Linked DNA regions of Homo sapiens: region 1 is linked to region 2. Evidence: fine-mapped expression QTL. Tissue or cell type: tibial nerve. Region 2 holds a variant in brackets; the other region holds the start of a gene. All regions are shown on one strand. Distances are from middle to middle.

Region 1 (8,000 bases), 100 kb before region 2:
CTGACTGGTGCATTTACAAACCTTGAGCTAGACACAGAGTGCTGATTGGTGTATTTACAATCCCTTAGCTAGACATAAAGGTTCTCCAAGTCCCCACCAGATCAGCTAGACACAGAGCACTGATTGGTGCATTTACAAACCTTGAGCTAGACACAGAGTGCTGATTGGTGTATTTATAATCCCTTACCTAGACATAAAGGTTCTCCAAGTCCTGGCTAGACTCAGGAGCCCAGCTGGCTTCACCCAGAGGCTGCCTCACCTGGGGCTGCAGGTGGAACTGCCCGCCAGTCCCGCATGCCCTGCGCCCCGCCCTCCTCAGCCCTTGGGCGGTCTATGGGACCAGGTGCTCCTGGAGCAGGGGGCGGCGCTCCTCGGGCAGGCTCCAGCTGGCGCAGGAGCCCGTGGTGCGTTGCCGTGTGTGGGGCGGCGGGGGGAGGAGGGGCGGCAGGGGGAGAGGGGGAGGCTCAGGCATGGCAGGCTGCAGGTCCCCAGCCCTGCCCCAGGGGGAGGCAGCTGAGGCCTGGCGAGAATTCCAGCGCAGCGCTGGCCGGCCGGCACTGCTGGGACACCTGGCGCACTTTCCGCAGCTGCTGGCCCAGGTGCTAAGGCCCTCACTGCCCGGCGCGGCCCGCCGCTCTGGGTGCAGGGCTTGCCGAGCCCACGCCCACCGGGAACTGGCGCTGGCTCGCAAGCGCCGCACGCAGCCCGGGTTCCGCCCGCGCCTCTCCCTCCACACCTTCCAGCAAGCTGAGGGAGCCGGCTCCGGTCTCGGCCAGCCCAGAAAGGGGCTCCCACAGTGCAGAGGGGGGCTGAAGGGCTCCTCAAGCACGGCCAGAGTGGGCGCCAAGGCGGAGGAGGTGCCGCGGAGAGGGAGCAAGGGCTGCCAGGACGCTGTCACCTCTAACCACTACGCCCAGCTAATTTTTTGTATTTTTAGTAGAGAGGGAGTTTTACCGTGTTAGCCAGGATGGTCTCCATCTCCTGACCTCGTGATCCGCCTGCCTCGGCCTCCCAAAGTGCTGGAATTACAGGTATGAGCCACCGCGCCTTGCCCCTACCTTCTTATGGTGGTGACTGACATTAAGAGAGAGAATTGCCATAAGATTAGTCATAATGATACCAGAGCTTTGACCCTTAGTGGGTATGGAGACATGGGGGTTCTTTCCAGGGAGTGCAGCTTTCTGTAATTACGTCTTGACCAGCTAAGGAAGGTGGGGTGGGTAGGCAATGGCAGGTCTGCTTTGAGCCTGAAGTTTCCTTCTGGGAATACGCACCCAGTACCCATCTGAGAACTCAGACTAAAAACTATTAGGAAAAATTGCTGGGGACGTGTTTCAGAGACTTGACTTTTACTCTTGTAATATGAATTAACTGCTTTAAAAATGGACAATATGCAAATGCCATACAATGACTCTATTTAGGTATGGAATCTATAATGTGCCAGGTACTGGGTGAGGCAGTTTACACAGAGCAAATCTTTATTACAACTATAGCCTTCCCACTTAATGGATGAAAGCATAGATACTTAGAATGGTGAAACAACTTAGGAAATTTATACTGCTGTCAAGTAGCAGAGACATTGGTATCAAAGTTTATCAAACTTCAAAGCCCATAATATTTCATCAGAACTGTGATGATTATTGCGGCAACAAACAGCAGATTGTTTTAAGCAAATTTGGAGTTGTATTGATCCACAGCTGTTAGCATAATATTTATCTTGAAAAAAAGTGTTGCAATGTGTTTCCTCTGACCACTCTTATTTTTTCCACAAGTCCCACAAAAAGGGAAGTCTAATTACTTACATAGGAAGAAAAAAGGGCACAGAGAATGCTCTTTGACTTCTGAAAACATTCCAGAATTTTACCACTGATAGCGTTAGTTTAGGGATTAGAAAGTTTCTCAGTGCATTTGTACTATTTTATCTTCATTCTATGCATGTATTTGTCCCAAATGAAATTGATGTGTCTTGAATGAAATGGATGTGTGAGGAGAAAACCATTAGCATGAGAATATCCAAACTGTCTTCCCATTCTGAATAAAAGAAAAGCCATAAAACTGATAATTAATGTTTAGTATCTCTGCTATGATGGTTCTCAAAAGCTGACAGTATGTAAAAATTATTCTAAGTGCTTATTTAAAAAGCATAATCTCCGAACTCGTGAATCAGAATCTCTTGGGTGTGGGGCTGGATCGCACTTTTGACAAAGGCTCCCCAGTAGATTTTGACTCAACAGAGGGGTGTTTGGGAGCCTATATCTAATTTTCCCTGCCCCAGGTCTACACTTCAGTGTTCCCCACATTTTCTAATCCTTCTCTCCCTCCACACTCCGGTTCCTTTCATTATTCTAATACTTCCATGAATTAACCAGGTATAGAACTAATCTAGGCTGGGCGCAGTGGCTCACGCCTGTAATCCTAGCACTTTGGGAGGCCGAGGTGGGCAGATCACGAGGTCAGGAGATCGAGACCATCCTGGCTAACATGGTGAAACCCCGTCTCTACTAAAAATACGAAAAAATTAGCCGGGCGTGGTGGCGGGCGCTTGTAGTGCCAGCTACTCGGGAGACTGAGGCAGGAGAATGGCGTGAACCCGGGAGGCGGAGCTTGCAGTGAGCCGAGATCGTGCCGCTGCACTCCAGCCTGGGTGACAGAGCAAGACTCCGTCTCAAAAAAAAAAAAAAAAACTAGTTTATCAAATAACTGTGATATAGAAATTAAATACATATTGCTGCAACTGTATCAACAACTGTCCTGTCAGTGATAAGGGGTAACAATGTTTTCATACATGCATTCTCTCTTTGCTATATACATACACACATACACATAAATACATATATACATACACTCATGCATGTGTGTGTATATATACATGTGAGAGAAGACTCCGTTTATTATTTATATTTTTATAGTACACTTCTAAAACACAGCCATGTGCCTGAGATATAGTAGGGAGTCAAATATGTTTGAGTTACTGAATTAATTAATTTGACTTCATCCTTACTCAAGAAAAGTTTCAACTGAGTGAAGGTCTTCCATTCTCTAAAGAGCAAGTCAATAGAAGGAGATCATTCTTCCTTTACACATTGATGTAAGGAATATATCATACAAACTAGTCTTGATTTTTGTCATTTAGAAGACTAGTCTTGTAATTAATTGGCAATTTAGTATTCCATGTGAGATATCCAGTGTCCATGTACGTCATATTAGATCCATACACATGTAACAAGCAAAGAGGGTATGTTTTATTTTTTGAATGCTAATGTAACATGTAGGGACATTTTAAAAAATCGCCTTGACATATTTTCTATTTGGAATAGTTTTAAATACTTTGGATAATGTGTTGTATTTGTATTTCTAAAGAAGAAAATCTTATGCAACCAACTTAATTGAATAAGAAATAAATCATTCCCAGAAATAATTTATTTTCTAATGTTAACATAATGTGTACATTCTGAGAAATTATTAATAAAATGTTTAAAAGATAGGCTTCTGGGGTGAACTCCTAGAATTAGCTAGGTATGTTTTTTCTGTTTGCCTAGGACAATGACCTAATAAGATGGTTAATCATCATTGGACTCATAAAAACAAACAAATAAAAAGCCAACTAACCATTTAAAGTGAGACTTTAACATCAGAAAAAGGATGGACTTGTTGCAGTTGCTGTAGCATTCAAAGTCAAGGTAAGAACCGTCGAGGTTGTCTAATTAAAACATTTCTTTTATGTAAGAAATTTTAACAAATTTCAGTGAAAATGTTTTTGGTAGTTATGATAAATATTACAGATTTTATGCTCTGTGTCTTCTCCACACTTTTGTTCTGAGCCCTTAAAGCCTTGTAAATATCCCTTCTAGAAATAGAAGAGCCTCAGATTTATATACTCAAAAATAAGAGTAAATCATACCTTTATAAAGTGAAAAATAAAGTTTGGAGTCCTATTTCTATTGCTTTCTAAACAAATGAAACATGAAGTCTGAAAGGATGGACTTCTAGTTACTCTCTTAAAATATACTATAAGATAATTATTTGTATAAACTGTATTGAATTACTATACCAGGCTCCCTATTTCTTTGATTTCACTTTAACTGGATAAGTAGGAGTGGGCGGGTGGAGGGGTGGAAAATATGTTTCAAAGTCACTTAATCACCTCACTTTCCTCCATTCAACTCGTTTGATTTAGGGTGAGGGGAAAGAGATTTTCTAGATAACTTTTTTATCTCTGTTCAAATAAGAGAAAAAAATCTTCTGGGCACAGCTCTTGGAAAGAATTAACAGCTCAATAAATAATGGTCCCCTTCACCCATTCAGGAAGGTGGCTTCCCTGATAAGACAGTTATTTTTATTGTGAAAGTAAGGTGGGGATGCAGAAATTCTCTCCTCTGAACAATCTAAGAAGTTAGGAAATGCTGTTTTCCCTTTTATCCTCCTCAGTTCCATAGGTACATGCTAGAAACTGGGTCACTTGGCCTGCACTGGTTTTCTATAACCCCTTAAATATGAAAAGCTAAACAGAAATAAGCAGAGGCTGGTAAGATTCTGCCCTCTACTTCAGCCCAATCAAACTGTGAAGAACTGACCTGTTCTGTTCAGGGAAGAGTTGCAATGCTGCATACAAATGCCTGTGGCTCTGTCTATAAACATATTGTGTCCTCAACATTTATTTATGTCAATAATTTGGAACTCAGAAATAATATGTTCAGAGCAAAATATATTAAACGCTTCTAAATAAGGCTTAAAATGCCACAATGAAGTAAAAAGTGTGGTATTTATTCAAGGCTAAATTGATATTCAAGTTTTGTAGGTACTTTGTACTTACTTGATACATTTTTTTTTTTTTTTTTTTGAGAAGGAGTTTCGCTCTTGTTGCCCAGGCTGGAGTGCAATGGCGTGATTTCAGCTCACCACAACCTCAGCCTCCTGGGTTCAAGTGATTCTCCTGCCTGAGCTTCCAGAGTAGCTGAGATTACAGGCATGTACCACCACACCCAGCTAATTTTGTATTTTTGGCAGAAATGGGGTTTCTCTGTGTTGGTCAGGCTGGTCTCGAACTCCCAACCTCAGGTGATCTGCCCGCCTCGGCCTCCCAAAGTGCTGGGATTACAGGCATGAGTCACTGCTCCCGGCCTACTTGATACAATTTAACCTTTCTGAGAGATGAGAAACCAAGTGCCCACATTTCTTATTTTTCTGGATGGGTATTTTATCTGAACATAAAAGAGAGAGGTGTGGAATAGTTGTCTTGGAAAGTACGGGAAATAACAGAAAAAAGTAATGATTATTCGGGTATGTTCTCCAGTGGTACAGAAGGATGAGAGGATGAGAGAGTTTATTTCAACTAGAGGTAAATAGGGAAACATTAAAGTGGTGTGATTTGGAGCCGCATTACAGCCAAGAGATAGGGAAGGACATTCCAGGAATGGAAGACATATACATGAAGGTAGAGAGCTTTTCTGTTGGGACAGTGGTTCCATACATCTGCAAGTGCTTATGGTTGTATTGGGAAATGGGACTAAAAACTTGGATTCATTTAGGCTGTGAAGACCCTCAAATAGGAAGTGTAAGTTTTATTTTTGTTGTAAGAGGGATCTTTGAATGATTCCAAGAATGGACATGATATGCATAGGAAAGAAAGCAAGCTGGAAGACAGGACAAGTAGAAATTAATCAATTGAAAGAAACAAGGCTTGAGTGGTGAGATAATAGTCTTCAAGCCTTCAAGAATATTTGTTTAGTATAAAGAAAAAGAAAACTCTAAAGCTGAAGGAAGACTATCTGCCTTGCAAGTCGTTCAAAAAGATTTGCAATTATAGAATTAATTGGTAAAAAATAAATATTTTCCAACTTTTAAATTATGAAGAAACAGAGATATTCGTGGAAAAAGTGGTGTAAATTTATTAAGGGGCTGCTTATTACCTTGAGACCACCAAATTATTGATTTTTTTCCTCACTTTACCTACAAAACACATACAAAAAGTGGAATAATTGAACTTCTCTTAGAGATACATAGGTATGGGTTTCTCCATTCATGAGTGTATTTATATACACTCGCATATACATAAGTGATAATATCTTCAGATATTGATTTTTCCATATTCATGCATTATCCACTAAATATGCATGATATATATTTATGGTTTTTATGCATTTATAATATAGAGAATCAATAAATCCTTGTTGAGTAAATTAATGCATAAAATATGCAGTAGATCTTCATTATTCACAGATTCTATATTAGAAAATTTGTCTAAACACTAAAATTTGTTTGTGACACCAAAATTAATACTGCTGGGCTTTTGTGATCATTGGCATGCATGAGCAGAGTGGTGAAAAATTTGAGTTGCTCTGTTTCCAGTTGAAGTGGAACAAAGTGAAGCTCTGCCTTCCTCTCTCAGCTCCCATACTATAAACTTCACAGTGCATTTATCGCCACATTGTTTCCATAGTTGTGCTTTGCGATGCTGAGTTTACTGTTTTAAATGGACTTCAAGCATAGCCCTGAAGTGTTGTCCCGTTGTTCCCACCTCCTAGAGGGCCTGACAGAAGAGGTACATATGCTATGTAAGTTTCCCTCAGGCATGAACTACAGTGCTATTGGCCACTAATTCAATGTTAATGAATCAACAGTATATACTAAGGTGTCTTTAAACAAAAACATACATAAAACATTATGTATTAAGTTATGTATTGATCCGTTGATTAAAATATTGTGACCAAAGCCACACAGTCACCTAACACTGTATCTCTTCTAGGAATGATGGATTAATATTTGCAAATTCAGTGTTCCCAGCAACTTTATGGAACATAATTATTGCAAAACGTGAGAATCAATTGTACATATAACCTATATCATACATATTATATAATCAGTATCCTATTACAAATCGGATGCTTATATAGATAACATTGATATTTACATACTTAGATATTTACATATCTAAGGTATCTATATGAGCAGCTACATAGCAAGTATCTACATAGCATGTATCCACATATATATGCTATATACATAACATATACCTATATCTATGTTATGTGTCTGCTTATATACTTTATATACATAAATATGTGTTATGCATATATGTATGAACAAGAATACATCTCTAAACCTTATAAATATTCCACTGTTCTATATAAAAGAGTCAACTGACGTAAAAAGTTGACTCATTTTACTGGTCTTTAAAATAGGGGCTTAATAACTCTGAAACTTATGATTTCTCATATACTTTGACTTCAAAACTTCACTTGTAGGAATTTATCCTACAGATATGACCACACAGAAAATGACATATAACATATTAAGAACATTTTCTAATATGAAATAATTAGATATAAGCTAAATAGTTAACGATATAGAACTAGTTACATATATTATGAACAACAGAATACCCTGCTACCATAAGCAAAATGAGGACTTTTATTAATATAAAGTATATACAGAAGATAAAAAGGTAGAGTGCAGTAATACTGGTATGCTTACATTTATATTAAAAGAGAAAATATTATGTATTTAATTAAAAATGCATATTAAGGCTGGGCGCGGTGGTTCACGCCTGTAATCCCAGCACTTTGGGAGGCCGAGGCGGGCGGATCAGGAGGTCAGGAGATCGAGACCATGCTGGCTAACACGGTGAAACCCTGTCTCTACTAAAAATACAAAACAATTAGCCGGGCGTTGTGGCACGCACCTGCGCCTGTGGTCCCAGCTACTCAGGAGGCTGAGGCAGGAGAATGGCGTGAACCTGGGAGGCAGAGCTTACAGTGAGCCGAGATCACGCTACTGCCCTCCAGCCCGGGAGACAGAGCAAGACTCCGTCTCAAAAAAAAAAAATAAAAAAGCATACCAGATTTCTGGATAAGGGGACAAAGGTTATAAGCAGAATCTTGCCTTTTCTTTTCTTTTCTTTTTTTTTTTTTTTGCATTTTTCAACTACATGCATGTATTTTCTCTTGAAAAATAAGTGGATAAACCCTAAATACAGTAAGATCATGATGATGGTAAGGTCA
Region 2 (8,000 bases):
TTTTCTCCCCTCATGTCCCATTTTAAATTTCACTGTGCCCTACTTTTACTATTATCTTCGGATTACTTTGGATTTAATTTGCTCTTCTTTTTCTAGTTTGCTAAGGTAAAAGATTAAATGATTGATTTAAGATATTCTTCATTTATCTCTAATTCTGCTTTCACTGCATCCATAACATTTGATGTTATAATTTTATTTTCACTTATTTCAAAATATTTTTAAATTTCTCATGAAATTTCATCTTGACCCATATGTTTCTTAGAAGTGTATTGCTTAATCTTCACAGATTTTGAGACTTTCCAATGATCTTTCTGTTGTTGACTTCTAGTTTAATTCCCTTGTGGTTTAAGGACAGATATTACATGATTTTCATTCTTTCAAATTTCTTCTATTTTATTTTTATTTTTATTTATTTATTTATTTATTTATTTATTTATTTATTTATTTATTTTGAGACCGTCTTGCTCTGTTACCAAGGCTGGAGTGCAGCAGTACGATGTCACTCACTGCAACCTCTGCTTCCTGGGTTCAAACAATTCTCGTGTCTTGGCCTTCTGAGTAGCGGGGATTACAGGTGTGTGCTATCACACCTGGCTAATTTTTTTTTTTTTTTTTGTATTTTTTCTTTTCTTTTCTTTTTTTTCAGATGGAGTTTCACTGCTGTCGCCCAGGCTGGAGTGCAATGGTGCAATCTCAGTTCACTACAACCTCCACCTCCCAGGTTCAAGTGATTCTCCTACCTCAGCCTCCTGAATAGCTGGGATTACAGGCCTGCACCCCCACACGCAGCTAATTTTTGTATTTTTAGTAGAGATGGGGTTTCACCATGTTGGCCAGGATGGTCTCAATCTCTTGACCTCATGATCCACCCATCTCGGCCTCCCAAAGTGCTGGGATTACAGGTGTGAGCCACTGCGCCCAGCCTTTTTTTTTTTTTTTTGTATTTTTGTAGAGACGGGGTTTCACCATGTTGTTCACCATGTTGATCAGTCTTGTGTCAAATTCTTGACCTCAAGTGATCTGCCTGCCTTGGCCTCCCAAAGTGCTGGGATTACAGGCCTGAGCCACCACGCCTGGCCTTAAATTTCTTAAGATATCTTTTATAGACCAGAATGTGGTCTATCTTGGTGAATATTCTATATGAGCTTGGGAAGACTTTGTAGTCTGTTGCTGTTTGATGTAGTAGGTTACATCTGTTATACTGTTGGTTGATAGTGTTGTTGAGTTCAACTATGTCTGATTGAATTTTGCCTGGTGAATCCGTGCATTTCTGATAGAGGCATGTTGAAGTCTCCAACATAATTGTGGGTTCATTTACATTAAGTATCCACTTAACATTGTCCATAGGTTCTTAGAAACTGATTTTAAGCAAAACAATACACTATGTACCATAGTAACTATTTTTATACCAATTATCTATGGTGAAATTGGTTTCATTATACAATACATAAATTCACTTTTAAAATTATAATTTCCAAGAACCTGTAGACAATGTTAAGTGAAGACTTACTGCATTTCTCTTTGCAGCTCTATCATTTTCTCCTCACATATTTAGACACTCCATTTTTACATGCTTACATGTTAAGTATTGTTCTGTTTTGTAAAAGGATAATAGGATAACTGATTTCTTTGTTATTATGTAAAGACTTTTTTATCCTTCATAAATTTCCTTGCTTTGAAGTCTGCTCTGTTTGAAATTAAAAAATTAAAATAGGTACTCCCATTTTCTTTTGATTAATGTTATCAGTGTATATCTTCCTCAGTCTAATTACTTTTATTCTGTATGTCTTCATATTTAAAGTGAGTTTCTTGTAGACTACATATAGTTTGGTTCTTGGTTTTAATCCTCTAACAATCTTATTGTTATCTTTTGAGATGGGGTCTCACTCTGCTACCCAGGCTGTAGAGCAGTGGCTTGAACATGGCTCACTGTAGCCTCAACCTCCTGGGCTCAAGAGATCCTTCTGCCTCAGCCTCCCATGTAGCTGGGAACACAGGCATGAACTAACATGCCTAGCTAATTTTTTGATTTTTTGTTTGTTTGTTTGTTTTAGAGATGGGCAACTCTGTTGCCCAGTCTGGTCTCAAACTCCTGTACTCACTTGATTCTCCCATCTTGGCCCCCCAGAGTGCTGGGATTACAGGCATGAGCCACCATGCCTGGCTTATTTTGGTCTTTTAATTGGTGTATTTATATCATTGACATTCAAAGTGATTACTGATATAATTGAAAGAATACTGACGATATTTGTTACTATTTTCTATTTGCTCTCCTTGTTCTTTGATCCTATTTTTGTATTCCACTCTCTGTCTTCCCGTTTTGTTTTAATTGAGCATTTTATATAATTTCATTTTCTCTCATTTGTTAGTTTATTAGTTGTACTTTTTAAATAAAAATTTCAGTGATTTTCCTAGAATTTGCAATATACATTTAGAACTAATCCAAGTTTATATTTTAGTAACACTTTATTAGTTCACAGATTATGAGTACCCTTATAATACCAAAATAACCCTAATTCTTCTTTCCTACACATTGTGTCATTGCTGTCATTTACTCCACTTACTGTAAGCATACATACACATATGAATAAGCATGTATATTATATATAATTAAATACATTGTTTCTATTATTATTTTAAAGAAACTGATTTCTATTAAATCAATTTAGAATAATTTTTTTATTTAACCTTAACTGATTTCTTCTCTGATATTCTTCCATCTTTATGTATATCCGAGTTTATGACCTATATCATTTTCCTTCTAACAAACTTCTTTTAAGATTTCTTGCAAGGAGAGTCTACTGGCAAAACAGTCCCTCAATTTTTGTTTGTATGACAGTGTCTTTATTTCGACTTAGCTTTTGAAAGATAATTTCATATGGTACAGAATTTTTAAGTTGGTGTTTTATTTTTCTTAACAGTTAAATATTTCACTTTGCTCTCTTCTTGCTTGCATGGTTTCTGAAGAGAAGGCTGATGTAATCTTTTCTACTCTATAAATAAGGTTTGCTTTTCCTTTTGGTTTCTTTCAGGATGTTTTCTTCATCTTTGATTTTCTATAGCTTGAAAATAACAAACCTATGCATAGTTTTTCTGGCCTTTATCCTTCTTGGTGTTTTTTGAGCTTCCTGGATCTGTGGTTTGGTGTCTGACATTAATTCAATAAAAATTTTCTGTACTTATTATTTGAAATCTTTATTTTGTTCCTTTCATTTTCCCCTTCAAGTATTTTCATTATAAACACTTGTGTAGTCCTTCCAATGTTCTTGGTTATTCTGTTTTTTCTTTCTTTTGTCTTATTTTTCTTTGCTTTTTTTATTGATATAAACTTAGAGATTGTTTCCTCAGCAGTGCTCTATCTAATAATAAATCCATGAAGGCATTTATCATTTCTGTTACAGTTTTCTTATCTGTATTCTTTCATTTTGGTTCTTAGAATTTTTATCTCTTTACTTAAATTGCTAACCTTTCTTACATTCTGTCTACATTATCCATTAGACCACTTGACAAATTAATAATAGTTGTTTTAAATTTCCATCCCTGATATTCCCTGACATATCTGGGTCTGGTTTTAAGTCTTATTCTTTTCAGACTGTGTTTATTGTCTTTTAGTATGTGACTTGCAAATTTTTCTTGACAGCCAGACAAAATGTATTGGGTAAAAGGAATTGCTGTATATAAGCCTTTATTAATGTGGTGTAAGGCGATGAAGACAAAGTAGCATCCTGTAGTTCTATGATAAGGCCTCAATCTTTTAGTGAGCCTGTACCTCTGGACTGTGAACTTCAAACTTGCTTCTCAGTTTCTGTCTCCCACTCCTTAGGTAGAATGAGATGGCTTGAGGGGGCTGGAGTTATGTATTTTCCTCCCTCCCAAAGGAAGGCTAGAGACAGCTGGGGTTTAGTTTCTGTAGCTTCATATGTTTTTTTAATAATAGAAAAATATCTTATGCCCCCAATGAAAATAATAAATAGAATTGTTCTCTTAATATTTGTATGTGTAACTTGTTTTTCTTTCTTTTAAGATATGCATACTGGGGAGAAAAAAATGTAAGATATTTTACACATTTAAAATAATAATCGACTCTCTATTTTCTCTTTTCACAGAAGGGTCTACTTGGGCTTATCTATAGCTTTAAGATTCCCAGCACTTGTTTTATATATTGTTTTCATTTTTGCTATGAAGAAAAAATTTCAAGGAAAAGATACCAAGGCATC[G/A]GACAATGAAAGAAAAGTAATGGATGAAGCAAACTTAGAATTCTTAAATAATGGTGAACATTTTGTACCTTCTGCTGGAACAGATAGTAAAACATGTAATTTGGACATGCAAGACAATGCTGCTGCCAACTAACATTGCATTGATTCATTAAGATGTTATTTTTGAGGTGTTCCTGGTCTTTCACTGACAATTCCAACATTCTTTACTTACAGTGGACCAATGGATAAGTCTATGCATCTATAATAAACTATAAAAAATGGGAGTACCCATGGTTAGGATATAGCTATGCCTTTATGGTTAAGATTAGAATATATGATCCATAAAAATTTAAAGTGAGAGGCATGGTTAGTGTGTGATACAATAAAAAGTAATTGTTTGGTAGTTGTAACTGCTAATAAAACCAGTGACTAGAATATAAGGGAGGTAAAAAGGACAAGATAGATTAATAGCCTAAATAAAGAGAAAAGCCTGATGCCTTTAAAAAAAATGAAACACTTTGGATGTATTACTTAGGCCAAAATCTGGCCTGGATTTATGCTATAATATATATTTTCATGTTAAGTTGTATATTTTTCAGAAATTATAAATATTATTAATTTAAAATTTGAATTTGTGTTTGACTAACAACCTCGATGGATCTTCTTCCAACCTCCCATTAAGATCCTGCAGAAGAAATAGAAATATTCAAATATTGCAAGGTGTAATTGTGAGACAACTTATTATAATACGTGTTAAGTTTCTACTGGACCCATGGAAGTGGATTAAGAAAAACCGACTTTAGCTTGAGAAAGCAAAACCCATTGATAAGATGTGTCTTCATTGCATCTGTCTGTTCTCTGGGAGAAGCAAAATCTGTGTTACTTCCTTGCATACTTGTTTGTTTATTCATTGTGCACAAGAAGATATCTTCCACATCTTCACAAGCTGGATAAGAAATAGAGAAAATGAGATCAAATATTTAAATATTGCATTTTCTGGTAGTGATGCAGGATATTTCTTGGCCTCTTCACTGGACTCACAATAGAGGTGCCCTGTTTATTTGGTCTGCCATGCTCAACCCCTTGTGGGAGGGAGAGTGTGAGTGACGTAGTGCAGGACCATGTGGGCTGTCCTGGTCATCGACACAGAAACAAGCTCTGTGAGTTTCTCATGGCCAGACCAGGTGCGAGTGAGTGAATGCTGGACCTGGGCAACCGCTCCAGGCACTGAAACGAGTGAGTTACATGCAGGGCTGGCAGCCAGGCAAGGTGCAAGGGTGCTCAGGATCCTGAAGCCCCAGAGGGGTTGTTATGGTGCTCCTTTAGTTCCACCGTCTACAGTCTAACAGATGGCAGCATGTTAGCAGCTCAGTTGGCCCCTTGTCTCTTTACCTTGGGTGGCTGCCCTCTGCCAGTGAGGGCAAAGGCCAGTGTGACAGATTTTTCTGGGTACCTGCATTCGGTGGGTTCCAGGCCCTTGTCTGGTGTCCAAGAAGAATGAGGTCACATTGACAGTTGAAGGGTGGTGAAGGTGGAGAGTTTTAATGAGTAATGAAAACGACTCTCAGTGGAGAGGGGAGCTGGAGAGGGGATGGGAAGGGCCGGTTGTCTTCCCCGAAGTCCTGCTGTCTCTTCCTCGAATTCAGGCTGTCTCCCCAGTCTACCAGCTGAGTCTGGAGTCTTTATAGGCACAGGATGGGGAGTGTGTGCTGACTGGTTTCTGAGTATGCAAAAAAGGTTAAAGTGAAGGCACCACTCAAAGGTGGGCATGACAGTATAGAAAACCAATTAAGAAAGAGTAGTTATATCTAAAATAGTTGGAGGGTGGGACCAGTCAGAGGAAAGCCTGCCAAATAAGAAGACAACTTCTCAATCTGGTCTAAGGCTTTAACTTGTAGCCTGGCTTTTGGACTTTAAACTGTCATCAGCTTGGAGGTGGGGTTTCACCGGAAACCTGCCCCTATTTGCCTAGGCATTTGGCTGTCTCCTGTCACTATCAGGAGCAACATCTCTACTTAGTGAATGCTAGAGGTTGTAGTTTATAATTCTCAATTGGTTAAAAGATGTTTTGTATCAGAATCAACTGTAAAAATATATTTTAAAAGAAATATAATTATATACCTACTGTAGAGATTCCAAATTCAAACATGTGTGATATCGCTTGGATATCTTTAAAACATTCCACATGATGCTAGGATTCCTTGATAGACCACCATGGTATAGGAAAAGGTGTACCTGAGTGTAGTAAAGTCACAAGAAATTATTACTAGAATATGGGAACTGGCCTGGAAGATATATAGATATATACGTGTGTATGTATGTGTGTGTGTGTATGTGTGTGTGTATATATATATCTTTATACCTGTTCTCAGACTGTAATCCTAAGGAAAAAAAATTAATCACACAAACAGAAATTTGAGGAAACCCACATACATGCTAGGTTTGTAGGTATCATATAACAAATCTAATGTGATCACATGCACACACACATATACACACACACATATAATCATATATATTGAATACAATGTGATATTTCAATACATGTATACATTGTGTAATAATCAAATCATGGTTATTAGTGTATCCATCACCTTATACATTTATAATTTCTTAATTATGAGTACATTCAAAGTCCTCTCTTCTAGCTTTTTGAAATATATAATGCATTATTGTTAGCTATTGTCACCCTACTATGCAGTAAGTACCAACAACTTATTCCTCCTAACTGGAACATTGCACTCATTGACCAATTCCTCCCCATCTTCCCCTTCCCCTGTTTTTCCTGTCTTTGGTAACCACAATTTTACTCTTAATGTCTACGAGATCAATTTGTTTAGATTCTTCACATGAATGACATCATGCAATATTTTTCTTTCTGTACCTGACTTATTTCCCTTAACATAATGTTCTCCAGGCTCAACTATTTTTTTGTAAATGACAGGATTTCATCCTTTTTTAGTGGCAGAATGGTAGTCAATTTTGTATATATGCCACATTTTCTTTATCCATTTCTCTGTTAATGGCATTTAGGTTGATTCCATGTTTTGGCTAAAATCAACAGTGCTGCAATTAACATGGGAGTGCAAAATGACTCTTCAGCATACTCATTTCATTTTCTGTGACGATATACCCAGTAGTGGGATTGCTGGATCATATGGTATATCTATTTTTAATTTTTTGAGGAATATCCATGCTGTTTTTCATAATGGCTGTAGTAATTTCCATTCCCAACAATGTATAAGACTTTCCTTTTTTCCACAGTATTGCCAGCATTTTTTCTTTTCTTTTTTTTGTTTTGTTTTTGGTCTTTTATGACAGCCTTTCTTAGTGGGGTGAGGTGATATCTCATTCTGCTTTTTATTTGCATTTCCCTGATTGTTAGTGATATTGAGCATTTTTTTCATATAACTGTTGTCCATTTCTATATCTTTCTTGGAGAAATATCTATTCAGGTATTTTGTCCATTTTTAAATTACATTATTTTTCTATTGAGTTGTTTGAATTCCTTATAATTCTAGATAATAACCTCTTGTCAGATGTATAATTTGTAAATATTTTCTCTCATTCTGTAGGTATTCTCCTTAGTCTGTTGATTGTTTTCTATACACAAGATTTTTAACTTGATGTAATTACTGTATTTTTGCTATTGTTGCCTGAGTTATTGAGATCTTGTCTAATAAATCCTTGCCCAGGCTGAAGTTATGTAGCATTTCTCCTTGCATTATTCTAATAGTTTCATAGTTTTGGGTTTTACATTTAAATCTTTAATCTATTTTGAATTGAATTTTGTATATGGTGAGA

The links. PIP is the estimated chance that this variant, and not a neighbour inherited with it, causes the effect.
Region 1: SLCO1B3 starts here. The variant in region 2 is fine-mapped to the expression of SLCO1B3 in tibial nerve (GTEx, PIP above 0.99). The same link has a PIP of 0.9 or more in nasal epithelium.

The regions. Positions count from the first base shown.
Region 1 is chr12:20,807,085-20,815,084 of GRCh38, forward strand. It overlaps SLCO1B3 (solute carrier organic anion transporter family member 1B3), which reads left to right and starts at 3,621. Exons shown (of 16, transcript NM_019844.4): 1 at 3,621-3,680; 2 at 6,440-6,554.
Region 2 is chr12:20,911,898-20,919,897 of GRCh38, forward strand. SLCO1B3 (solute carrier organic anion transporter family member 1B3) reads left to right here. Exons shown (of 16, transcript NM_019844.4): 16 at 4,107-5,014. The coding sequence ends at 4,350. All of the region lies in intron 13 of SLCO1B3-SLCO1B7 (SLCO1B3-SLCO1B7 readthrough), which reads left to right. The region is part of intron 1 of LOC124902894 (putative solute carrier organic anion transporter family member 1B7); the gene reads left to right. Among named protein-coding and RNA genes, the nearest start is that of SLCO1B3-SLCO1B7, 100 kb to the left of the region's middle. The variant G/A (reference allele first, on the strand shown) is at 4,218.